Homo sapiens: one gene and its partners. The main gene of each other region encodes a partner of the protein of the gene in region 2 in a complex. Each region holds a gene or a part of one and is shown on either strand. Other genes may lie near its edges. The genes, in order: PPP2R5D, PPP2CA, PPME1 and PPP2R2A. A codon is read from its position in the direction of its gene.

The links.
Region 1: the proteins of PPP2CA (region 2) and PPP2R5D are in contact, whole or in part, in a cryo-EM structure (PDB 8U1X), measured with the Homo sapiens proteins. Residues at the interface, in NP_002706.1 of Homo sapiens: Arg89, Tyr91, Arg121, Gln122, Ile123, Gln125, Val126, Tyr127, Gly128, Tyr130, Asp131, Leu134, Arg135, Ala140, Trp143, His191, Trp200, Arg214, Ala216, Leu243, Met245, Tyr265, Tyr267, Arg268, Cys269, Arg302, Arg303, Asp306, Tyr307, Leu309; in NP_006236.1 of Homo sapiens: Ile80, Lys82, Asn188, Pro189, Ala192, Glu193, Phe194, Asp195, Glu198, Asp199, Glu200, Ile288, Tyr289, Glu290, Glu292, Lys332, Val333, Lys334, Lys367, Phe368, Trp369, Pro370, Lys371, Thr372, His373, Ser374, Pro375, Lys376, Ser413, Pro414.
Region 3: the proteins of PPP2CA (region 2) and PPME1 are in contact, whole or in part, in a crystal structure (PDB 3C5W), measured with the Homo sapiens proteins. Residues at the interface, in NP_002706.1 of Homo sapiens: His59, Arg89, Gln122, Val126, Tyr127, Asp202, Ile211, Ser212, Pro213, Arg214, Gly215, Ala216, Gly217, His241, Gln242, Leu243, Met245, Phe260, Tyr265, Cys266, Arg268, Cys269, Thr304, Pro305, Asp306, Tyr307, Phe308, Leu309; in NP_057231.1 of Homo sapiens: Gly84, Gly85, Met157, Asp181, Val182, Thr186, Ala187, Ala190, Ser193, Met194, Phe197, Leu198, Leu291, Trp298, Trp301, Phe302, Lys316, Val323, Asp324, Arg325, Leu326, Asp327, Lys328, Thr331, Ile332, Gln334, Met335, Gln336, Gly337, Lys338.
Region 4: the proteins of PPP2CA (region 2) and PPP2R2A are in contact, whole or in part, in a cryo-EM structure (PDB 9C6B), measured with the Homo sapiens proteins. Residues at the interface, in NP_002706.1 of Homo sapiens: Arg89, Tyr91, Val126, Tyr127, Gly128, Asp131, Arg135, Cys266, Tyr267, Arg268, Arg295, Pro298, His299, Val300, Thr301, Arg302, Arg303, Thr304, Pro305, Tyr307, Phe308; in NP_002708.1 of Homo sapiens: Tyr86 (codon at 2,971), Leu87 (codon at 2,968), Lys88 (codon at 2,965), Ser89 (codon at 2,962), Ala173, Asn174, Ala175, Glu190, Asn201, Leu202, Trp203, His204, Ile207, Thr208, Asp209, Arg210, Ser211, Phe212, Asn213, Ile214, Val215, Asp216, Met256, Ala260, Leu261, Asp263.

What each region holds. Positions count from the first base shown.
Region 1 is NC_000006.12:42,979,931-42,987,596, reverse strand, and holds the start of PPP2R5D (serine/threonine-protein phosphatase 2A 56 kDa regulatory subunit delta isoform), read right to left. Parts: upstream 3,028-7,666; 5' UTR 2,920-3,027; coding exon 2,893-2,919; intron 1-2,892. UniProt on the Homo sapiens protein: The B regulatory subunit might modulate substrate selectivity and catalytic activity, and might also direct the localization of the catalytic enzyme to a particular subcellular compartment.
Region 2 is NC_000005.10:134,216,057-134,223,086, forward strand, and holds part of PPP2CA (serine/threonine-protein phosphatase 2A catalytic subunit alpha isoform), read right to left. Parts: intron 1-7,030. UniProt on the Homo sapiens protein: Catalytic subunit of protein phosphatase 2A (PP2A), a serine/threonine phosphatase involved in the regulation of a wide variety of enzymes, signal transduction pathways, and cellular events.
Region 3 is NC_000011.10:74,251,286-74,255,230, reverse strand, and holds the end of PPME1 (protein phosphatase methylesterase 1), read right to left. Parts: exon of another isoform or gene 3,601-3,945; intron 3,584-3,600; coding exon 3,516-3,583; intron 2,818-3,515; exon of another isoform or gene 2,679-2,817; intron 1,740-2,678; coding exon 1,721-1,739; 3' UTR 528-1,720; downstream 1-527. UniProt on the Homo sapiens protein: Demethylates proteins that have been reversibly carboxymethylated. Demethylates PPP2CB (in vitro) and PPP2CA. Binding to PPP2CA displaces the manganese ion and inactivates the enzyme.
Region 4 is NC_000008.11:26,350,484-26,357,513, reverse strand, and holds part of PPP2R2A (serine/threonine-protein phosphatase 2A 55 kDa regulatory subunit B alpha isoform), read right to left. Parts: intron 3,047-7,030; coding exon 2,881-3,046; intron 1-2,880. UniProt on the Homo sapiens protein: Substrate-recognition subunit of protein phosphatase 2A (PP2A) that plays a key role in cell cycle by controlling mitosis entry and exit. Involved in chromosome clustering during late mitosis by mediating dephosphorylation of MKI67.

The DNA of each region.
Region 1 (7,666 bases), on a different chromosome or scaffold from region 2:
AGCCCTGTGTTTTGGGCCCAACTCTTACTGGCTGTGTAATCACAGGCAAGTTAACTAGCCTCTCTGAGCCTCAGTTTCCTCATCTATTAGATGATGACAATCATAATACCCTCTTCCCTCAGCACAGTGTTAAGGCACATGAAAACCGTAGTGCTGGTCAATGTTATTACTATTATTATGAACAAGAAAAAAATCGGAGGGGGCAGGGGCACCCTACTCAGGAAAATAAAAGAGGTAAGTCCCAGAGGAGAACATGAAGGAAGAGGAGAGATGCGAATCCCTCCAAGAGATTATCTTAGCACCTATCCACTAAGCACGTACTTACCGTGTGAAAAGGAGTTGTCAAACCAAAATGAAACTTAGTTATTATCTCAAAGGGGAAGAAAAGTCTTGTCCACAATTAATTCCCATCCAAGGCCAAACACAAAAGGACCATAAGTGGCCTACTAAGTGTTCTGCAAATCCAGAAAAGAAAGGAGAGTTCACTCCTGACTGAGGGCTCAGAAAGGCTTTAGAGAGGAAGCTGTGAAAGATGGCCAGGAGAGAGGGGACAGGTCATAGATGAGCAATAAAGATCCTCCACCCACAGCCATCCAGACAAACCTCAGTCACACTGGCAACCCCCCTGCCCCTTAGAGCCTGCCAACCATTGAAGAAGGCCAAATGCAACTGAAAATCAAGAGCAGAAAAACCTTATAGGGAGGTGAGAGTTATGCCTGGCTCCATGCACCCCGTTACTTCCAACACCCTTTCCCAACCAAACGTTTACACCCATGGTCCTAGCAAATCTCACTGGCAATTTGTCTTCTTCACAATCTAGTAGGCTATTGCTTTCTGTGGATGGGACAGTATCTAGTCCAACAGACTAAAAATTACAAATGGGTGGGGACCTCACCAGCTTTCCCCGAATTCCATTTCCCTTAGCCCCTGTTGTGGCTGATTTCTGTGTGCATTGTCTACGACTGAGCTACCCAAACCACCTCCGCATGCCCACTCCCCAAGGACAGGGCCTGGGTGGGGCACAAAACCCTGTCCAGCTCACTACTCCCAGGAGGCTCACTATCTAGTACACCATCACCAACCCTGTACTTAGAACCTCAGGCCCTGAAAGGTTAAGGGGACAACTCAGAATCAGAGCTGCCTGGCAAATACAGAACAGCCCCAGGAGAAAAAGTTTGATTGAAAAGGTCAGAGATGGCAGCCCAGTAACCCAGCCAATCAGAGGGCAAATGAAAGCAATATACCTCTGGGGTCATCGAGCAGGTGGCCAGAACACCAGGCCAGAGCCAACCCCCACCAAAAAGGGCCAGCCCCAGGAGAGGAGAAGCTGGGGGAGGCTGGAACTGGTATCCTAGCATCCTATGTGTGAGTCTGTACCTCAAAGGAACCACACCTCTGAGTCAGACCTCAGCAACAGCAGGAAACAGAGGGTAGAAAAAGGCACGGATGAGGAGCAGGGGAAGGCAGCACCGAGGTAGATGAGGAAGGTGAAAGAAGGCAACATTAAGAACTGGCCTGTGGGCCAGGCACGGTGGCTCACACCTGTAATCCCAGCACTTTGGGAGGCCGAGGGGGTCAGATCACCTGAGGTCAGGAGTTCAAGACCAGCCTGATCAACATGGAGAAACCCCGTCTCTACTAAAAATACAAAATTAGCCGGATGTGGTGGCGCATGCCTGTAATTCCAGCTACTTGGGAGGCTGAGGCAGGAGAATCGCTTGAAGCTAGAAGGCAGAGGTTGTGGTGAGCCGAGATCGCGCCATTGCACTCCAGCCTGGGCAACAAGAGCAAAATTCCATCTCAAAAAAAAAAAAAAAAAAAGAAATGGCCTGTGTCAGGACATCATGATAAAGACATGGGTGTTCAGGGGTGGCTGGCCTGCAGGCTAAGAAGGAACAATAATCTGACAGTGAGGACAAATTCCCAATTTGAAGATGGTGTAGCTTAGGAAAGGCAGAAATCCAGCACTGGTGCGAAAAGAAAAAAAAAAAGGAAAAATGCAAAGGTTATCCTAGGATTAAGAATAAGGGTGAGGAGCCTACTCAGATTAGGAAAGGTGACTGGTCTAGGATGCACTTGGGTGACAGTTAGGAGGGCTTTGATACAAAAGAGGCCTTTAAGTCAGGAGACCTGATATTGCAGCTGGGCCTCCAGCAGGCTGTGTGACCTTGGACAAGTCCCTTGCCCTGTCGGGGCCTCAGTCTCCTCATCTGTACCATTAGGGATTGCACTGCATGCGCTCAGAGGTCCCTTCCAGCACCAACGTTGTGAGGTTCCATCAACAGAAGGGCTCAGTCCTGCTTACAAGTTTGTGTGTGAAGGAAGAACTAGAGGGAGGGGCCTAGGCCAGATTTGGGTGGAGGAGAGAGAAAGCAGCGCTGTTCTAGGTCAGGGGCTTGGCATGGAAAGAGAAGGGGCCGTAGGGGACTGCGGGGCGGCTGTCCCAGGCGGGTAGGAAGAGGAGACAAGGGGCTGCTCAGGGCGGGGCGAGGGGGCAATTCTGGAGGAAGGTGCAGTTTCAGATGAGGGGCTGCCCAAACCGAAGGGGGATCGGGGCCAGGGGTGATGGGGGGGACAGAAAAAGCAGGACAGTGACCTGGGAATGGGGCAGATCTGGAAGAAGGAGGTTACCCTGGGCCGGGGGTAAGAGAAGGGAAGAAGGGAGGGAGGTGTATGTGGGGGGAGTCTCTCCGGGGCAAGGTGGGGGAGCTGTCCTAGCTGCGGCACAAGCTGGGGGTGCTGCCAGCCGCGGGGGCGGAGGGCTGGCCCCAGGAGTCCTGCGGGGGCTGGACGGGAGGGTCAGTCTGGGGCTGTCCCGGGCCTGGCTCCGGCCCCTCCCAGAGCTCCGCGCAGGCTCCAAGGCGGCGGTGGGGGAAAAAGGGCCACGCTCACCTTCTCCTTTTTCAGTTTATAGGGCATCTCGGCCCGTCCGGACCCGGCCCGTCTCCTGCGGCCCCGCTCCGGCTCCGGCTTTGCTCGGCCGCACTCGGCCCGCTCGGCGTCTCTTCGCCACCGCCTGCGCGCTGCGCCCGGGTCGAGCGGTGCCTGCGCCTCCAATTGGCCCGAACTCCTACAAAACTGCCTGACAACCAGGCGCCGCCTCCTCGGATTGGTCATTGGAGCCAAGCTGCTTCCTTTTTTTCTTATTGGAAAGAAATAGTACAAACCGCCAGGGTTCGGCTTCCAGAATTGGCTGAAGTGGGTGGTCCCGCCCTAAAGTGGGTCGAGCTTAGAGAAGGAGGCGGGGATAAGGGGAAACCCAAGCTTGGCTAGGAGGGCTGCACTCCAGCGTCTGCTGTGCGTCGGCCTCGGCCATTCTTCGCGGCGCTTGGAGCCCTGCTCTTTCCTTCTAAAGGCTCTCACACTTTGCCCGCTCTGCTACCCTGTCCAGTCGGAATTGGAGGAAGGAAGCCCTAATACGGAGGGCACCTTTCTTCACTGGGGTAAAGTAGCCCTAATTGCAGATGCAAAATTGATGGAGGGAGCTCCCAAGGACCTTCCAAGACACCCGCCTCCCTAGACAGGGGTTGCAGAGGAGCAAAGGGGAAGCCTGGCAGGGCTAGGACCTGGGCGAAATGAGTGGAGAATCCCTGGCTTGGTGCAACTTTAGGAAGAGGGTCCCCGTTGCTACTGCAAGTGTACTGGGATTGGGGAACCAGCTAGATTTGAGCAGTTGGGAACGCAGTGGAAAAGCAACTTCATTGTTGACTGTCTCAGGAAATCCATCCCTTACTTGCCACCCTGCTCAAGTCCGTGTTCTAATGGGTAAGACTCAGTTTATGCCCACAAAGAGTTCGCAGTCTGGTGAATCACAGATGTGTATAAACAAAGGATTAAGAGAGAATGTAAACCAGGCAGGCACGGTGTCTCACGCCTGTAATCCCAACACTTTGGGAGGCTGAGGCAGGAGGATCACCTGAGGTCAGAGGTTCGAGACCAGCCTGGCCAACATGGCGAAACCCCGTCTCTATTAAAAATACAAAAATTAGCTGGGTGTGGTGGTGCACGCCTGTAATCCCAGCTACTCGGGAGGCTGAGGCAGGAGAATCACTTGAACCCGGGAGACGGAGGTTGCAGTGAGCCGAGATCACACCACTGCACTCCAGCCTGGGCGACAGAGCAAGACTCTGTCTCAAAACAGCAACAATGACGACAAAAAGAATAAACCTGTGGCCAGGCTCGGTGGCTCACGCCTGTAGTCCCAACACTTTGGGAGACCAAAGTGGGCAGATCACGAGGTCAGGAGTTTGAGACCAGCCTGACCATAGTGGTGAAACCCCATTTCTACTAAAAATACAAAAATTAGACAGGGTGCGGTGGCTCACGCCTGTAATCCCAGCACTTTGGGAGGCCGAGGTGGGCGGATCACGAGTCAAGAGATCGAGGCCATCCCGGCCAACATGGTGAAACCATGCCTCTATGAAAAATACAAAAATTAGCGGGGCGTGGTGGCGCGCGCCTGTAGTCCCAGCTACTCGGGAGACTGAAGCAGGAGAATCACTTGAACCCGGTAGGAGGCTGAGGCAGGAGAATTACTTGACCCCGGTAGGTGGAGGTTGCAGTGAGCCGAGATCATGCCACTGCGCTCCAGCCTGGGCGACAGAGCAAGACTCCGTCTACAAAAAAAAAAGAAGAAACCTGTGATGCAAAGGCATGAGAATGATACAATGGAGGCCGGGCGCGGTGGCTCACGCCCGTAATCCCAGCACTTTAGGAGGCCGAGGCGGGCGGATCACGAGGTCAGGAGATCGAGACCATCCTGGATAACACGATGAAACCCCGTCTCTACTAAAATAATACAAAAAAATAGCCGGGCGTGGTGGCAGGCGCCTGTAGTCCCAGCTACCCGGGAGGCTGAGGCAGGAGAATGGCGTGAACCCGGGAGGCAGAGGTTGCAGTGAGCCTAGATCATGCCACTGCACTCCAGCCTGGGCGACAGAGCAAGACTCCGTCTCAAAAAAAAAAAAAAATACTACACATTGGGTACAGTATACACTGCTTGGGTGATGGCTGCATCAAAATCTCATAAATCACCACTAAAGAACTTATTCATGTACAAAAAATAAATTTTTAAAATTCTATATAAAATAAAATATTTAGTCTTAAAAAAAAAAAAGGTCAGGCGCAGTGGCTCACGCCTGTAATCCCAGCACTTTGGGAGACTGAGGAGGGCGGATCACCTGAGGTCAGGAGTTCAGGACCAGCCTGGCCAACATGGCAAAACCCCGTCTCTACAAAAATACAAAAATTAGCCAGGCATGACGGTGGGTGCCTGTAATCCCAGCTACTCAGGAGGCTGAGGCAGGATAATCCATTGAACCCGGGAGGTGGAGTTTGCAGTGAGCCGAGATCGCACCATTGCATTCCAGCCTGGGCGACAGGGCAAGACTCCATCTGAAAAAAAAAAAAAAAAACACAAAACCTGTGTCCCTTACCCAGGTACCCAGGAGAGCAATGTTACAAGACAGTGGCCGTGGGGATGGAGAAGAGAGGATGGAGCATGAAAATGTGTAGAATCAACAGGATATGGTGATTCATTGTATTGTGGGGGGGACGGTAACGGAAAGGGAAGAGTTGAGGATGATTTCTGGAAGTGATCAGAGTTGTAGGAGGACAACTGGTGTCATAATGGCAAAGGAAATAAAAGACAATTGGTCAGTAGTGTCAGAGAAAGAACAGCATCATCTTGATTCTGCAATTAGAAGATTATGGGTGATTTTTTCAGAGAGTGGAAGACCGTTTTTAGTGAGTGGAAGAGTGAGCATCAAGAGGTGAGGAAGTGAAGATGGCAAATGTAGGGTCCTGGCGATCTTACAGAAGTAGTATTTGGCTTTCGGTGACTAATGACGATTTCAGGGTAACACAAAGTGGACTACATGCCCGCTGTTACCTGCTGGGAGAAAAGCTTGGGAGAAAAGGACATTTATTTGTGGGTGGGTATTTGTGTCTGTATGAGTGCTGATCCAGGCAAGATAACTGATGTTTTTACCCATCTCCAAGGCCTCAAGGAGCACTATAGTCCTGAGGCCTAGAGCTTGCCTGCTACTGAGGAAAGCAGGCATATCCTCTTTAGGCCCATGTACCATCTATCTAGCCCTTGGTTCCTCTGGGACATAGGGGACCAAGAAACATATAGTAGCACTACCAAATGGGAACTTTCATCCATGTGAATCTAGGTACCTAGAACATTCTTTATTTAGTTTTTTTTTCTTTTAATTTTATATATTTTAAGAGACAAGGTCTTGCTCTGTCACCCACTTGGAGTGCAGTGGCACAATCATAGCCTCAAATTCCTGGGTTCAAGTGATCCTTCTGCCTCAGCCTCCCCATAGCTGGGATTATAGACACAAGCCATGGTTCCTGGTTAGTACATTCTTGCATGCTATTTTATTTATTTTTTTCTATTATTTATTTTTTTGAGACGGAATCTCACTCTGTCACCCAGGCTGGAGTGCAGTGGCGCAGTCTCGGCTCACTGCAAGCTCTGTCTCCCGGCTTCACGCCATTCTCCTGCCTCAGCCTCCCGAGTAGCTGGGACTACAGGCACACACCACCATACCCAGCTAATTTTTGTATTTTTAGTAGAGACGGGGTTTCACCATGTTGGCCAGGCTGGTCTCAAACTCCTGGCCTCAAGCAGTCCACCCACTTGGCCTCCCAAAGTGCTGGGATTACAGCCATGAGCCACTGCGCCCAGCCCCTTATAATATGCAAATCTAATAGTTTTCATATATTTGTCTTTCAAATTTTCAGGAATGTATAATGTACAAAATAGAAGACTGCCTCAAGAAGAAAGGAGAGATGGAGAAAGCTGAGCAGTAGCTGAAAGAGAATGTAAGGTCTAGAAAATGGAGATTGGCACCATCCAATTCATTTATTGTAAGTGAAAATAATTGTTAATAATTGGAAATGCAGTGGGACATGATGGCTTATGCCTGTAGTCCCAGCACTTTGGGAGGCTGAGGCCTGAGGATCTCTTCAGACCAGGAGTTTGAGACCAGCCTAGGCAACACAGAGAAACTCTGTCTCTACAAAAAATAAAAAATTAGTCCAGGCGCAGTGGCTCATGCCTGTAATCCCAGCACTTTGGGAGGCGTAAGCAGGTGGCTCACTTGAAGCCAGGAGTTCGAGACCAGCCTGACCAACAGGGTGAAACCCCGTCTCTACTGAAAATACAACATTAGCTGGGTGTGGTGGCACACACCTGTAATCTCAGCTACTTGGGAGGCTGGGGCAGGAGATTCTTTGAACCTGGGAAGCGGAGATTGCAGTGAGCTGAGATCGTGCCATTGCACTCTGGCCTGGGCAACAAGACCGAAACTCCGTCTCAAAAAAAAAATTGGCTGGGTATGGTGGCGTGTGCCTGTGGTCCCGGCTACAGTTACTCGGGAGGCTGAGGTGGGAGATCACTTGAGCCTGGGACGGTAGAAGCTGCAATGAATGGGGATCGTGCCACTGTACTCCAACCTGGGTGACAGAGTAGGACCCTGTTGCCATAAAAAAGGAAATGTGGCCTACCACTAGCTGAGTGTCTTGTACAGAACAGTGGAGGTGAAGAGAAGGATGGAATCTAAATAACAGCACACGCAGGAAGTCGACTGTTGGTGTTATGCTGACAGAAGCCTTGAACTCCTTTCCTTCTGCCTGCTCTGCTGCCTGCCCCGCT
Region 2 (7,030 bases):
CAAAATATTTTCTTAGTCTCAAAAACAGTTAATCACATAACAGTACCAATTCTGGCACTAAAGTATACCAAGAAATAACTTGCTTCAAAATACGAGTTCCAATATTTGGGGTTAATATTCATTTTTGTTGTTAGCTACATGAAAGGGATCATGATGTAACTAAAAGCATTCTCCTAAAGGTATATTACAAGTGGTTTCGGGTGGGCACGGTGGATCATGCCTGTAATCCCAGCACTTCGGGAGGCCAGGGTGGGTGGATCGCTTGAGGTCAGGAGTTTGAGAACAGCCTGGGCAACATGGCGAAACACCCCCTCCCCTACTAAAAATACAAAAATTAGCTGGGCATGGTGGTGCATGCCTGTAATGCCAGCTACTCAGGAGGCTGAAGCTGGAGAATCACTTGAACCCATGAGGCGGAGGTTGCAGTGGGCTGAGATTGTGCCACTGCATTCCAGCCTGGGCAACAGAGTGAGACTGCCTCAAAAAAAAAAAAAAAAAAAAGTGGTTTCCTTCAAAAGAAGGTAGTCAAACACCGAAGAACCCCAAGGTCTATACTGAGGAAAAAGTGTTTGGATTAATCACAGATCAATGATTTATACTTAACTAAAGAAACCTGTTTTTTGTTTTGTAGAAACGGTGGTCTCACTACATTGCCCAAGCTGGTCTCAAACTCCTAGTCTCGAGTGAGCTTCCAGCCTCCGCCTCCCAAAGCACCAGGATTGTAGGTATGAGCCACCATGCCTAGACAGAAATCAAGTTTCTGTATCATCAATTCTGCCCTTGATGAAAAACGTCAATGCAGGCCTAACCTGTCTTCTCTGTAGCATCAAACTCAAAATCAGACACAAATAACCTCTTTACAATCTTAGTACTAATAATAGTACTATTTGACAAAGGAATCTCCATTTTTGAAAGTAATTTTACTACTAAAAGTCTGATTATTGGCCGGGCGAAGTGGCTCACGCCTGTAATCCCAGCACTTTGGGAGGCCAAGGCAGGCAGATCACCTGAGATCGGGAGTTTGAGGACCAGCCTGACCAACACAGAGAAACCTCATCTCTAATAATACAAAAATTAGCTGGGTGTGGTGGCGCATGCCTGTAATCCCAGCTACCCGGGAGGCTGGGGCAGGAGAATTGCTTGAATCTGGAAGGTGGAGGTGGCGGTGAGCCAAGACCGTGCCACTGCACTCCAGCCTGGGCAACAAGAGCGAAACTCCCTTCTCAAAAAAAGAAAAAAAAAAGAAGTCTGATTATTAATTCTAATGTTCATTGTAACTCTAGTTCAAGTAAATTTAACATTTCACATCCTTACCATATAGTTGGACAGTTCTACCAATATAAAGACATAGAAGAAACACTGGAAAAAATGCAATTAATTTTTGAATTTTATTTTTCAGTTTAAGAACTGAAATCATTTGAAAATTCTTAATAAGTAAAATTACTAAATTCACAGGCAAAAAAAATTTTTTCAATATCCCAAGAGAATTTCATTTTGTCTCATACTGTTTTTATGTCAAGATGTACGGTTGGTTTGATATGTCATTTTGATAATTGTGCAAAAAAATCCAAGGTTTGTGATAAGTTAGTGTACAGGGCTAGAGTTTGAGGCGTGGGGTGATACATGATGTAGAACATATTACTAGCCCTGGAAGCAAATGAGTTTTGAGTTAATTTCCTTCAACTATCAAACCATTCTTCATACTAATCATGTGTTGCTTAATCGCAGGGATACATCAAATTATTTAGTTGTTGTGTGAACATCACAGAGTGGTCTTACACAAATCTAGATAGTATAGACTACTACAAACCTAAGCTATTGGATAGCCTATTGCTCCTAGGCTACAAACTTGTACAGCATTTACTGTACTGAATGCTGTAGGCAACTGTTAACATAATGTTAAGTATTTGTATAACTAAACATAAACAATATAAAGTGTTACACTATGACATTACAAGGTCACCAGGTGATAGGAATTTTTCAGCTCCATTATAATTTCATAAGACCACCATCACATGCAGTCCACCACTGACCAAAATGTCATTATGTGGTGCATGACTACTTGTCTTTCATTAACTACACTGAACAGATACCACTAATATTTCACGAAACATTTCAATCTTCTTTGATTAAAATCAGTATGGTTATATTTTAAAAGTTTAACCCTCCAGGTAATATTCTAGTAACTAGTATTTTCTGTTTGGCTCTAAGGCTTAGGACCTAAATAAAAGAAAAATGTTGGGAATGAGGGATAATTCTAAAAGTGTAATAAAAGAAAATATAAAATTTGTGAGTTTTCCCATCTGTTTCTGCAATATCACCTTTGCCTCTGACCAAAAGGAAAGATCCTTAAAGCCCTATGTCTCATATGCACAATAGACTAAACTCAACCTTTACCAACTAACCTACATATGTGAATGAATTAAACACTCCCAATCATTCCTGCATAGAAAAAGAAGTTTTAATCTACTACACAACTGAGAAATGCTGCTATATATCTACTTATTAAAAAATTGTCACAATAATACATCATGAACAAGATTCAACCACTCTGGGTCTCAGTTTCCTCCCTCATCTGTGTAAGATGAATTAGTCTAGATGGTTGTTTCTTTCTTTTTTTTTTTTTTCTTTTAAGATGGAGTCTTGCTGTCGCTTAGGCTGGAGTGCAGGGGCACGATCTCGGCTCACTGCAACCTCTGCCTGCTGGGTTCAAGCAATTCTCCTGCCTCAGCCTCCCGAGCAGCTGGGACTACAGGCGCCCACCACCATGCCTGGCTAAATTTTTTGTATTTTTAGTAGAGACGGGGTTTCACCGTGCTAGCCAGGATGGGCTCCATCTCCTGACCTCGTGATCCACCCACCTCAGCCTCCCAAAGTGCTGGGATTCCAGGCGTGAGCCACTGTGCCCCGCCAGCCTAGATGGTCTTTAAGGTTGATTCCATTACTAGAATTCTACCCCATCCTAAAGCATGTCTTAAGCCTATTTTATTAAGTAAAGCCAGCCAAAAGAAATAGATAGTGGGCATTATTGCTCATTTACAGATTAGTGGCAGAAAAATAAGTTACTTGATCACCACCGGCACAAGCATTCTAAAACATTCCCTATCTAGAATTAACTATAAAGTCAATCTCCTGACTAATCCAAAACTGTGCTATTAATTAGAGCAAAACCAAACTAAGAAATCCTTATACACGAGAATAAGGTAGTGCTTTTTAGACAAAGCTCAATAGTGACAATAATGCATACAATGAAGGTTTATTAAATACTGGTTCCAAAATCAAATGTACACTGTCACACGATAGCATCAATGACACTCCATAACCTCTGTGAACTACATTTTGCAGGCCTTTGGCCAGGTAAACACATGCTACTGCTTGTCTCCCATTCTACTCCTCGTCCCCATCTAGGACAAAGGTTTGCAACCTTCCAGCCTCAACACCAGCAGGGTAAAAATCCCCATCTGTAGTAGCAACTAAATGACTAAACTAAGGCAGAAGTGGCAACACAGGGTGCAAGAGGGACTGGCCAACTGGTCACATTTAGTTTAAAAAATACCCAGATTCAGATATACACGCATCTGTGTCACTGCCTTGTTCATCCATTCTAAACCACAATCCACAACAGACCAATAAACAGGCAATAATACTGCAATGTGAAGAAGTTAAGCAGTTAGCTGGGCACAGTGGCTCACACCTGTAATCCCAGCACTTTGGGAGGCTGAGGCGGGCGGATCACTTGAGGTCAGCAGTTCAAGACCAGCCTGGCCAACATGATGAAACCCTGTCTCTACTAAAAATAAAAAAATTAGCTAGGCATGGTGGCACATGCCTGTAATCCCAGCTACTCAGGAGGCTGAGGCAGGAGAAACACTTGAACGTGGGAGACAAAGGTTGCAGTGAGCCGAGATCATGCAACTGTACTCTGGCCTGGGCAACAGAGCGAGGCTCCGTATCAAAAAAAAAAAAAAAAAAAAAGCAGTTAATCTCAGGTTGTTCTTTACCATTCTTTCAAACCCCACCTCTCAGCCATTTACTGACAATAGACACCTCTCCCTTCTTCAGCCTGGTCTACCACTTCTGCCCCAGAAGCCAAAAGAAAATCTATTTAAAACAAAAACAGGTCTGGTGCCAGTGGCTCATGCCTGTAATCCTAGCACTTTGGGAGGCTGAGATGGGTGGATCACTTGACGTAAGGAGTTCAAGACCAGCCTGGCCAACATGGTGAAACCCTGTCTCTACTAAAAATACAAAAATTAGCTGGGTGTGGTGGCACACACCTATAATCCCAACTATTTGGGAGGCTGAGGCAGGAGAACTGCTTGAACTTGGGAGGCAGAGGGTGCAGTGAGCCGAGATCACACCACTGCACTCCAGCCTGGGCGACTGTGAGACTCTATCTCAAAAAAAAAAAAAAAAAAAAAAGCCCACAAAAACAAAAATCTTCCTCCTTCATGGTTCTCATCCAATTCAGATCTGCCTGTGTATGAGTGGAGGTTGACAGCTTTCTCAGGCAAGGATGATAATGAAGTAAGAGAAATGGGTCAAAGCAGAAAGAATAAATAGTGTCTCCCTGTTACATATAGCTTTGCCTCTCTCCTCAGTACCCTGATAAAAGACCCCACCAAACCCAGTCTCTTAGTTTTCCTAACTTACCCCTTCCAAACTAAGCAAAGGCTATCTCACAGGTAACTCTGACAAACCTGACTTACCATGAGATAGGGAACATATTTGCTGCCATAAAACAGGGCCACACCAGACTGGTAATACAAATGTTATCCCACATACTCCTGAAGGGTCCTTCATTCTTTCTACAGTACATGAGCTTCAACTTAGCCTTACAGCCAATTTTCTGAAAACATACAATTCTGGTCCCAGTGGAGAACGTAGGGAGGGTTGGGGAACCTGTGTTTCTGAATAGTGGGAATGTTCACCTTTTCTGTTTCCTCATGAAGTCAACTCCAAACTAACTGCATTACAGCTTCCTGCCTAGGAGACCATGAAACAAATACACACATGCATGACATTTGACTGTGGAAGCCAAGAGGATGAAAAGAGGCTTTTTTGGGGCCGGGGGGAATGGGGTCTCCCTCTGTCGCCCAGGCTGGAGTGCAGTGGCACAATCTTGGTTCACTGCAACCTCCGCCTCCCAGGTTCAAGCAATTCTCCTGTCTCAGCCTCCCCAGTAGCTGAGACTACAGGTGTGTGCCACCACGCCCGGCTAATTTTTTGTATTTTTAAGTAGAGACGGGGCTTCACCGTGTTAGCCAGGATTGGTCTTGGTCTCCTGACCTCGTGATCCGCCTGCCGTGGCCTTCCAAAGTGCTAGGATTACAGGCGTGTGAGCCACCTTGCCCTGCTGAAAAGAGGCATTTTATAAGTTGCAATAAACAATATAAAAAGTCAGTTATACTTTATTAGAATACTTTAGAGCTCAGTCTCTGGATCATGATTTATACTAAGAATACAAGGGAAATTATCTAGGGTTTTCATCTCACCAATCTCATTTGAGGGGCAAATGTTGTCAGCTACATCCAAAACTGAATAATAATTACTCTTTCCAAGACAAAGAGGAACAACAGTATGTAACATGAATAGGAAGCTTTCAAGCAATGAAAATAAAAATAATGTCTTGGCCAGGCGCGCTGGCTCAAGCCTGTAATCCCAGCACTTTGGGAGGCTGAGGTGGGTGGATCACTGAAGGTCAGGAGTTCGAGACTAGCCTGGCCAACATGGTGAAATCCCATCTCTACTAAAAATACAAAACAGCTGGGCATGGTGGTGGGTACCTGTAATCCCAGCTACTAGGGAGACTGATGCAGGAGAACTGCTTGAACCTGGGAGGTGGAGGTTGCAGTGAGCCGAGATTGCGCCACTGCACTCCAGACTGGGCAAAAGAGTAAGACCTTATCTCAAAAAAAAAAAAAAAAAAAAGTTTTATTTTATGAAAGTGTTGACTTCCCAATTTAGCTTGGCCCCAATTTACCTACATCTTTCACTACTAACACTACCTCTGAAAACAGAAGGGGATCTGTGAAGCAATACCAGAACATTAGGCTTAGAATCCACAAGCCTTGGCAATCTCACTTTTAGCCCCTTTAGTCAAGTCACTTTACCTTTCTGAGTCTTTGAGTTGCATCTGTAACTGAGAACAATATCTTATAAAAGTATGATAAAAATAATGTTCTGTAACATGCTTCCCCCACCTGCTTGTCCTCAATATTCAAATCACTTCTAGAGAAATGAGCCAAACACCCTTTAAAATGAAACGTACACACATACTCACAGCAACATATTACCCAATTCATATAAGAATGTCATCTTGGTCAAATATTTTTCAGCTCATCTAATTAGAAGGAAGCAGTTTGTTTTTTCCATACTCACGTAACAAATGTTAAAACTAACATTTTAATGACTAATGACTGCACTTTATTTATAGTGCTTGCAAAGCAATGGAAAACAGCATACCTAGGTAAAGAACTTCTTTGAAAAAAAAAAATCTGGCTATCAAACAACGTTCTCCACATGTTTGGTAAGCACAAAGCCAAGAAATCATACCCAAGCTAAAACAAAGCTGAAGTCACATAATAAAAGATTGTTTACTGTAGTCAATGCAAAAGCAAGTTGATACTATTTACTCCTTTCAATCTGTAGATTGAAACATACCCGGCCAGTTATACTGATGTAATGCTGATTATAGAACTGAGCCTGAGGCAAAGCTGCACACCAAATTATTAAACTATCAACAAATTATGATTCTCAAGATGACAAAGTATACTATACACTAACAACCTTGGCTTTTGTATAAGTCTTAATCACATCTTAAAATTCTTTTTAGCTAGTCAGTAACATAAAAACCATGTTCACTCTTGTCTTTTATAAATGCATACTTAGATTCTCTCAGTTCTGAACATGTAACACTGTTAATTGTTGATGGGTTAACAAAATAATGGCCTCAGGATTTTTTAGTAACAATGACCTCTTATGGTATACATCTATTTTTACTATTTAAATATTTCCCCTTCAAATCAGG
Region 3 (3,945 bases), on a different chromosome or scaffold from region 2:
GGTTTGGACAACTGGAGAGATGGTGATACCTATCACTTATTGAGCCAGGAAACGCTGGAGGAAGAGCAAGTTTCATGGGGAGCAAGTTTCCGGGGGAAGGTGGATTCAGCTTTAGAAACAGTCAATATGAAGTGGCTTTTGGTCATCTGGGAGAGACAGGAGGAGGAACCTGGGCCTACCTGTTCAGAGCTCAGGAAATGATTTGGGTTGTAGATGAAGTTTCACATAAGTGAAGCTATGGTGACTGAGATCATGTGGACAGTGCACAGATTGTCCTGCTCTGGACCAAAGTCGACACAGCCGATAATTAGGAGAGATGGGACTGGAATCCCATCCTGGCTGCAGAGGAGGGTGGCTCTGACCATCCCACTGGGCATTCTGGATCAGGGGACAGGCAGAGCATAACACACTGAAGGGCTATAGGGAAAGGGGTTTCTGGAGTTCCATGACAACTAAGTCCAATGAGCTGTCCCCTGCCCCCATATCAGCAGAAATAAGGACAATTCCACAGAGAAAGACCAGACCAATAAAGGTTGGGAGATATTTATTTTCTTTAAACAAGGTCATAAATAACAAAAAACAAAGTAGGTCCCAGACTCCGGACCATGCAGCAGGACAGGGGTGGGAGGTTGTTGAGTGGAAAGGTGGAGGGGGCTACACATCACCTAAGACAGTCACAGAAAAGATGGGCTTCAGGACACTGCCCCTTCCTGCCCTTGGAAATGGCGTGCCTGGGCAATAGGGACAGGCCACAGTGCTGTGTCGAGGCAGCTGGAAGAAGGCAAAGACTGGGGATGCCAGGCTGTAATGTTTCTGTGTGGAGTGATGTGAAATCCACAAATGGCAAAGAGAAGCTGTAGGTTTGAAGAGGCAAGGGGGCACTGCACACCTCCAGGAACCAGTTATGAAAATGGTTAAATTTGATGATTAAAAACAATTCCATAGGCTTTGGCCTGTGGCTTTGTGCATGGGCTGTATTTAACCTGGGTTGCTCTGTGGCAGGTGAGGGCGCAGGAGGCCCCTGGAGCAGCCTGGCCTCAGCCCAGGGCAGGTGCCCAGACATGTGGGAGTGGGACAGTGGGCTCTCCCAGATGGGAGGCCATGTGCTTGGACCGGCTGGACCTGATTTTCAGGCTCGTTTCTTGTGATGCTATCCACCACCACCGCTCGCTATGGCTAAGGATGGGATCTTGGCCTCTCTGGGTCTTCCAAACCTGGAAGAGTACGACTGGGATAAAACGGTACCTGACTAGTGTTTTATTTGAAAGGGAAAAATAAAGACCACCCCATGCATTGTCCATCCCATGAGGCAGGGCTGGGCCATGCCAAGACAATCTCAAGGAATGGAGGTCCCTGAGCCTGGGAAGACATTTGAACTCAGATGTATCGCCTGATGCTAGGAAGAGGGGCTCAGTATGGCAAATCTGGAGGCTTTACCCTAGGCAACGCAGGGAGAGCAGGCAGGAGCTACCCCAGTACAGGGAAGGGAAAGGAGCAGGGGAGCCCTGGACTGGGGAAGCCGATGTTGGTCAAGGGCCCTGGAAAACAATGCTTTTGGCAGAATACATGAAAAGGTTGGTACATCTCGGGGTGCCCGTCTACCGGGAGCCAGTGTCACATGGCTGGGCGGGATGGAGAGGAGACAGTGGCATCACAGTGGCCTCTGGTGCGACGTATTTACAACAGAGCTCGATGTTGAGGAGGGGTGGACAGCAGGTCACTAACAGCCAGGAAACACACTGTGGAAGAACAGAAAGAGAAGGAAAAACAAATGTAACTATCAATAGCTTTCCCTTGCTTATCTGTATCCTCCAGGAAGCCCTCCCTAATGACCACCAAGGCCCTGGCAAATCTGACCCATTTCACAGCCCTGACCAGAGCTGGACCCAGGGTCTGCTCTCAGTGTGCTGCTCATTTGCCCAAGGCTCCAAATGGTCGAAGGGCCCCAGCCAAACACTGTTTAGTAAGAGAAATTAAGTCTTTATTGTTGGTTCCTGGGATCCATGAATGGTCAGTTGTTAGAGGGATGGCTCAGCATAGGGGTGTCGCTTCTGTGGTTCACTGTCCCAAGGTCTTGCCATCATCTCCAGTGCTTACCCTGCCCTGTCACTCTCATCTCCCAGGCCCTGGAATTCAGAGTTCTCTAACGCAGAAGCCATTTCCTTTTCTTAATATTTCTTCTGCAAACTTTCTGAGAGTGGGGAACAAGTTTCCCCAAGCCCTCACCAAAATCAGAGAAGAGACTTTTCAATGGTAGGAATGACTCCTCATGAGGGTTGTGGGCTCTCTGAGGATCAAAGGCCTTCTGCAGTACAGACTAGGAGCTGGCTGAGGTGGGTCAATACCACCTGGTTTGGTCAACATGCCTCTCTTCTTCCTCAACAAAGAGCCCAACTGTGTTTCCCTAAACAGATGAAGAGCTACCTAGGATGAGAGACCTGGCCCTGTTTCTTCCTCTAGACCAATAGAGGGGGAATTTTTGCCTCCCTTGAGGCATTTGGTAAAATCTGGAGACATTTCTGTTTGTCAAAACCGTGTGTGGGAGGGGTACTACTGTTATCAGGTGGGTAAAAGCCAGGGATACTGCTAAGCATCCTACAATGCACAGGACAGTCCCCACAATGAAGAATTATCCACCTCAAAATGTCAATAAAGCTGAGGTTGAAAACCCTGCTCTAGAGCTTCCAGGATCACCCCTGCAGAGTGGCTAATATTCTGCCAGCTTCGGAAAGGGAGGGGAAGCAAGCCTGGCAGAGGCACCCATTCCATTCCCAGCTTGCTTAGTAGCTGGCCATGGGAAGACACTGTGCAACACTGTAGAAAACCCTGCTCTAGGCCAGGCGCGGTGGCTTGTGCCTATAATCCCTATAATCCCAACACTTTAGGAGGCCGATGCGGGTGGATCACTTGAGGCCAGGAGTTCAAGACCAGCCTGGCCAACATGGAGAAACCACCATCTTTACTAAAAAAAAAAAAAAACAAAAAAAAAAACAAAATTAGCCGGGTACGGTGGCGTACGCCTGTGATCCCAGCTACTCGGGAGACTGAGGCACTGGATCACTTGAGCCCAGGTGGCAGAGGTTGCAGTGAACCAAGACTGTGCCAAGAAAAAAAAAAAAAAAAAAAAGCCCTGCTCCATGGCCTGCCCAGCTTTCCTTGGCAGCAGGGCAGGAGAAGCCAAAGAAAACTTCTCTAGGAGCCTGGAAAAGGACTGATTCCTATCCCAGCCTCCTCAAAGGGGCACCTCAAGAAGAAATGCACATCACAGTGGGGAGTGAGACTAGGCACAATTTAATCACAGCCTCAGCATCAACCCGTGGGAGCACAGCACAAAGAAACAACCAACCATGGCTTTGTAGAAACAGACATGCCAGGCTCTTCACTGAGGAGGAGGAAGAAAGGCATGGTGACCAAACCAGGCAGGGGTAAGGCAGAGATATTTACAGTCCTACAAGTGTCTGCTTGTCAGATTCGGCCAGCACTGCTGGGTTCTTAAACCCTTGTACCCGCCTTACCACTGGAATCCACCGATGGGTTCTGCAAACCTGTGCCGGATCAGGAAAGTGGCAACAGCTTCAGCTACCTGGAAATGGGAGAGATATTCCAGGCCATATAAAGGTTAGTGATGGGGCTTAGCCTTGGGCTGTGAGCTACTGTTAGATGGTTAGGCTCTACGGTGCCCTCATCCCACCCACAGGTCTGAGTGGCTTGAAATTAAAAGGACCTAGGCCCTCCCTAGCAGAGCTAGAAGACTCCTCCCCACTATCCTTGCCAGGGATAGCTCCATAGAGCTCAAGAGGAATGACGTGAAGGGCTTATGTGTGCCCTCAGAGTTACAGAATGGTGTTTTCTCACAGGAGGAGCCCATATTAATTCCTAACTGTGCCTGTGGTTTAGGGAGCAGTTTCTACCCTAATCATCCCTCTTCCATCTCTGGCTTTTGGG
Region 4 (7,030 bases), on a different chromosome or scaffold from region 2:
TAAAATGCTTGAAGGAACATTAAATTAACTCAAGTTATAAGGTGACTATGACGTCCTTTAAGTAAAAATGATCTGGGAAACCCAGTTCATATAATGATCATGGAAAGCCAATGCAAATATTTTTATAAGATTAATTTTGGTTAATCAAACCTGGAAAGTTTGGTACTATTTTCCATCATTCTCCCACAGATATAGTTTTTATATAGACCCATTATATTGGGGGGGGGGGGTGTTACTATGCTCACAGAAAAAACTCACAGAGAAAAATACACAAAATAATATAAAAGATATCACTCAGAATCAACAGATGTTGACATTTTTCTCTAAGTCTCCTTCTTTCCAAATAGTTTTTCAGATATAGTTCAAGTCCTACTCCTCCCATCCTTTTCCCATCTACCCAGACACAACAGTTCATATGATTCTCATAATCTGCTTTATCCTTCCACATTGGACTCTATTATTAAGCACTTATTTTAGCATTAAAAAATGCAGCCCCCAGTTAGCTGTATTTTACTTAGTATTAAGAAACAAAAGACAAAAATCTACAATGCATTCTCTAATGTCTTTAAACAAGATTTAATCCATAGACGTTGTAATCGGATTTGCTTCGAAATAACACTGAGGAGGAGGGGAAGGGGAAGGATCCGAGACACAAATTAGCCATGAACTGAGGAGTGTCAGAAGTGGATGATGAGCATGCAGGGCTTCACTATACTATTCTCTTGAACTCAGCCTACATTTAAAAAGTTCTCTTTATAAGAAAGCTGATGTAGCCCTATAAGAAATAAACTGACATAAAAATATTCCAATATATAAAATGTTAACAACACATTTCCCTAGGAACATTTACTTCTAAAAGTAGAAATTATATAAATGGTTTAATTATGTATCATCTGATGCCAAAGAACAGTGTCTAAAATATTTGAAGCTATTTGAAATAACTTAGTTTACCATATAAATTAAAACTGACCCAAGACTAGAAGCTAGCATATGACAGGAATAAACTGTTCCCTCCACCCATAGTGCTGTGATTTACAGGCTTTAAATAGTTACTTCTCTTTATTTTTCTTCTAATAAGGACAAGAGAGGGGAATGCAGTCTATTGTGAAAACAGAGAAGGCAGAGGGTACGCATCTCAATGGACTGGCTGGGGAAAGCTTTCATGATCAGAAAAACGGGCACCCAGGAGGCGGCCAACGCTGATGGCCATCAGGCATTTGTGAACAGCATTTCTAAGAACTAATACTGTGGACGAGGGGCATCAATTAGATGGAGGAAGTGCTGAATTTCTTCCCCCATTTCATCCTGAAGTCATTTAAGTATATATTCTGCAAATGTTTATGGTCTAGGTGTTAGAATTTGCTTTTTAAATTAATAGTGAGGGGATGAGAAAATAAGAGGTTCCCCTCACCCTAGCACCAACCTCAAAAAAGTTTTAATCACAAATTTTTATAGACTACGGCTACCCAGAAACTAAAGTATCTCCTCAGTCACTCTAATGATTCCCTTTAGACTCAAGACCCCAACAAAGTCCAAACAATTCACAGGAAAAAGTTTTTCATAAGAACAAAGAGAAAGCACCCAACTCATCATAAAGGATTTCAAATTCTGGTAGAGTCATTACTAACTTTTTTTTTTTTTTTTTGAGACGAGTCTCGCTCTGTTGCCCAGGCTGGAGTGCAATGGCGCGATCTCGGCTCACTGCAAGCTCTGCCTCCCAGGTTCACCCCATTCTCCTGCCTCAGCACCCCCGCCCCAGTAGCTGGAACTACAGGCACCCGCCACCACACCCGGATAATTTTTTTGTATTTTTAGTAGAGACACGGTTTCACCATGTTAGCCAGGATGGTCTCAATCTCCTGACCTCGTGATCCACCCGCCTCAGCCTCCTAAAGTGCTGGGATTACAGGCGTGAGCCACCACGCCCGGCCTGTCATTACTAACTTTTAATCCTCACTCAACTTTTCCTGGGCCAGGCATAGTGGCTCACACGTGTAATCCCAGCACTTTGGGAGACTGAGCGGGGCAGACTGCTTGAGCCCAGGAATTCAAGACCAGCCTGAGCAACATAGGGAGACCCAGTCTCTACAAAAATGTTTTTAAAAAATTAGCCGGGTGTGGTGGCACTCACCTGTGGTCCCAGCTACTCAGGAGACTGAGGTAGGGAGGTCGAGGCTGCAGTGAGCTGTGATTACACCAATGCACTTCAGCCTGGGCGACAGACATTGTCTCAAAAAACAACAAAAAATGTTCCCTTGGCAAGTAAACAGTAGGAGAGGAATCTCCTTCCAGCCATGTGGATTGCTGGGAAGAAGGCAATATGCTAATGGTGATCAAGTAAGAAAGTGCTCTCCTATAGCGTATCCTGGAATGGAGACCATCCTTTGAGTATTTTGTATCTGCAGTTTGAGATACTCTGTGTAGTTTACAAACACTTAAAAAGGAGGAATAAATTAACATTTATTGAGCACTTGCACTCATGATGTATGTGAAGTTATTTAATATTCATAATAATACTATAATAAAAAATTGCTATCTCTAGTTTGCTGCTGAGGAAAATTCAATTCAGTGTTAGTAACCTGCCCAAGATTACGAGACTGAGAAATGACAGAAATATTACCTGACCTAAATCCAATGGTATAGCAGCCCATTCTTTTCACTACAAATTGGAGGTGTAGTAAACAAAAAATTGCTATCAGAGAATCTTTCAGAGAATCTAAAAACTGCAAGTGACAGTAAAAAAGTAGAGTTTACATTCTGTATAGAAAAACAAAAGTCCTTTTTACAAGTATCTCTGTTAAATGATTCCTCTCCTAGGCTACAGGATATGTGCAACAGGTACACACAGTGGGCACATGGAAAGAAAATATGTATACTTACCATTGGTAGACAATAAAAACTGAGCAGCATTTTTCTGGGGTAACCACCTAATTTTGTTGATCTTTTCTTCTATTTCTAAACTTTTCAAGTAGTCAAACTCTGGTTCATGGCTCTGGAAGGTGCTGTAAACATTATATTCTCCTCTGCTATGAGACTGGATTTTGTTCTAAAATGAAAACAAAAATATATGGACCATTGTTGAAAAATATTTCAAAATAATCAAATATGTAATCAATTCCAAAGGACCCTGCACATTCTCAATACCCCATTAGTTGTGTCTTTATACAATTACATTCTGTTTTTTATATTTCTAAAGGCCTTCAAGGATTAAATGAGAAAACTTAACGGGGGAAAAGGCTAAATAAAGCTGAATAAATAAGCTCAATTCATTAGGGAAATAATGACGTTAAATATGGATCAATTTGATTGCTAATTTACTCTTATGTATTTGATGGTATAGTCTATGAAAAAAACTGATGAAAAAAAACTGAGCACCCATAATAAGGAAGTTCATCTAAAAATAATGATAAAGTCTTGCCCAGAAAGAGCTAGGTGAGGCACACCTTCTTCCTATGCCCACTTTAGGGTCAACTCCCCGATCTGTTATTTAATATGATGTATTGTCCTTTTCCTTTCTGCTGCCCGCCTTTTGGTTATTTCGCTGCTGAAAGCTTAAAAAAAGAGCTCTTATAAAAGAAGGGATACCATTTGACCCCTACCTCCCACCCCAAGACCACTGTTCCAGACAGCTTTGCTACCAATCAAGTCCATATTCAGCACTACCCAGCAATGGCCCCATGCACCCCCATCAACAACTGCTTACTCGCCTTAAATTTGCTTTCTCATCTTATGAACCTGGCACACACTGATGACTAATTTCATTTAGTATCACTTTGAAAAAATGTAATTTAAGCTATCTCATAAAGGGACTACTTTTGAACTACTCTGGTTAGCATTAATATCTCAGCAAAAGTGAGAATTATAATCATGTTCAGAATTTCATCTTTTGACCTATTATCACACGATTAAAAACATTTTCATAAAAAAATTTGAAAGTCTAGTTCAAAGAACCACCTATGGAAAAAGTTTAAGTAAAAAATAGAATGAGATATTATTGACAGTCAACTATTTTAAGTAAAAGTGAGTTACCCAGTGAAATGTTTAGAACTTCTTGATAATAAAAACAGCCTATTACTATTCTCCATATCAAAAGGAAACTTCACTGAATCATCTTGAAAGTCTATGTTTTGGGTTGTTTTTTCCAGCAGCCTGATGATCTGGGTTGTTCATTCATGGATGGTTGTATTTGAACCCTTGGACAGCAGTTATCAGTTATTAGAGGGCAAGTCTGCCAATGTTAAGAATACATGTCCCACAAAACGATCCACATATCGGGGATACACAAGGGGTAAAAATCAGACTCAGAGCCTTGGTCTCATCACCATACCCATACACAAAATTAGACAGCCTATTCCATTAACATATATAAATACTCCAGTATCACTTTAAAGCTCCACAAATCTTTTACCTAAAATGACTCACCCAGTCTCACAAAATTTATCATTATAGTCTACAAGGAAACCACAATACCATTAAGCAGGCAACTCGATTTTTAATATAAATCCTGCATTTTAGACTGGTTTTTCATTTAACACTTAAAGAGACTATAATATATAGTACTATGTACACTAGGGCGTAGAGGGATAGACAGAATCCCCACATTCAAGTAACTTGTGTACGTCAAACTTTAGTCAAAGTAGAAACTGGTTATGGTCTACACAATTAAGGTAAGCAATATGAAGGGCCAAGGGCGAGCCACACATTGTATTTGATGAGTTAAGAAAAGCACAAAACAACAGAAATATTTTCTGAAACAAAACATGAACATCTTCCTGTAGACTCGTGGACAACAACACAGGTCTACTAAACATGGTATCTTACAGAATCCAAAAACAAAATCATAGAGGTATATGGCAGTTTCGTGGACTGCAAGAAGCTCCATCTCTTTGCAACAGGAAATAAATTAATGTATCACAAAAGGAGAAAATTCTGTCTAAAAAGCTCAAGATGCCAGGCTGAGCACATGCATTAGCCTCCCCTCTCTCCTGAAACTTTATTAAAGTGATCATAACAGAACTTTTAAAAACAAGTCCACAGGACAAAGAGTAATGGCAGAAATGACAGCAGCAGTAACAAAACTGAAGAGGCTATAAAACAGATGGGTACAAGTGGTAACTGACAGTAGACCACAGGGAGCTGCAGCAGACTTTTCCTAACACTTTGGGAGGGGATGTTTACATTATAATGATCATGATAGCATTGTTCCCTGCACAAACAAAGTACAGTGAGCAAGCCTGAATAAGAAGACACATAACCGCATACTCAACACTGAGCCACTCAAATGAGAATGCATCAAAATCAAACACAATGTTTTTGTTTTAAAAACCTCTCCTACAGTCATACAGAATTGTGACACATCCTTCAACAATTCATACTGGCTTTACCTGCACAGCATTTTCACCTCCCTCTCTTTTCTTGCTTGCCTTTATGATCACTATGAGAATCATCTTCCTAACCATACAATCTATTTGCATGAAAGTTTCTACAGTAAGTTTAGATGTGCTTTATTCCCCAGCACCTATAACAGTACTTGGCACATATAACAGGCATTCAATAAAGACTTTCAAAGCAGGATTTAGAATGAGCTATGTCACATACTTTACATACATTACAAACACAGGACACAAAACCAAAATCACACATTTTCAACACAGATGCTAACAGAATTCACTAAAGGACATCATAACCAAGTTTTAAAGCAAAGTCATAAAGACTGTGTACTGGCATGAGGATACACCAATGTGCCAATGAAACAGAACAGATGGCCCAGAAACAGGCCTAAATGATGACAAAGGTTGCCTTGCTGGGCAATGGGGAAAGGATGGTCTTTTCACTAAATGGTGTTAGGTTGACTATTCATAGGAAATAAAATGAAGCTCGACCCCTTCCCAAAACCACTCGTAAAGTGATTACAGATGAATAAGAGATATAAATGTGAAGGTACAATAATTAAGTTTTAGGATAACAGGACCCAAGAGAACTTTTCTGCAATGATGGAAATAGTCTGTATCTGTGTTGTCCAGTATGGTTGCCACTAGTCATGTTGAGCACTAGGCACACACTGAACACCTAAAATGTGGCTACTGCAACTAAGGAAGTTAATTCTACAATTTATTTTTAATAATTTAAATTTATTTATTTACTTATTTATAAGGTAGTAAGGCTGACTTTAAAGAGGGCCATGGAGACAGGGACCACTGCAACAGGGTCTTGCATTAGGGGAGAGAGAACAGACTCAACTCCCCATTAATCTGAATAGCCACATGGATCTAGTAGCTACAGTACCAGTCATACAGTTCTAAAAGATAACGGAAATGTCTTCCCTGGATTTTGGGGTTGAAAAGTATTTCTTATACAGGACAGAAAAACCAGTAACCCTAAGAAAAATACTGATCAACTGTATTATATTAATAATCTCTATTTATAAAAATATACTATTCAAAAAAATGAAAAGGCAAGTCACAGAATGAAAAATACTTCTAACAAATGTGTGGGTTTTCTTGTTTTGTTTTGTTTTGTTTTTTAAAAAAGATGAGGTCTTGCTATATTGCCCAGCCTGGTCTCAATTTCCTGGGCTCAAGTGATCCAACCAATTCAGCCTCCCAAAGTGCTAGGATTACAGGCGTGAGCCACTGCCCCTGGATCCTCCAACAAATGTAACTGAAAAAGAGTTCATCTACAAAAAGTGTAAAGAAAGTCTACAAATCAGTAAGAAAAATGACACACAACACAGAAAATTATAAGAGATTTCGATAGTCACTTCCAAAAGATAACATCCAAATAGCCAATAAACATATAAAAAGCAGCTCTGGCTAGGAGTCGCAGCTCATGCCTGTAATCCAACACTTTGGGAGGCCAAGACAGAGGATTGCTTGAGGTCAGGAGTTCAAGATCAGCAACACAGTGAGACCATCCCTACCAAAAAAAGAGAGAGAGAAAAAAAAAATTAGTCAAGTGTTGCAGTGCACGCCTGTAGTCTCAGCTACTGGGGAGGCTGAAGTGGGAAGGATCACTTGAGTCCAGAAGTTTG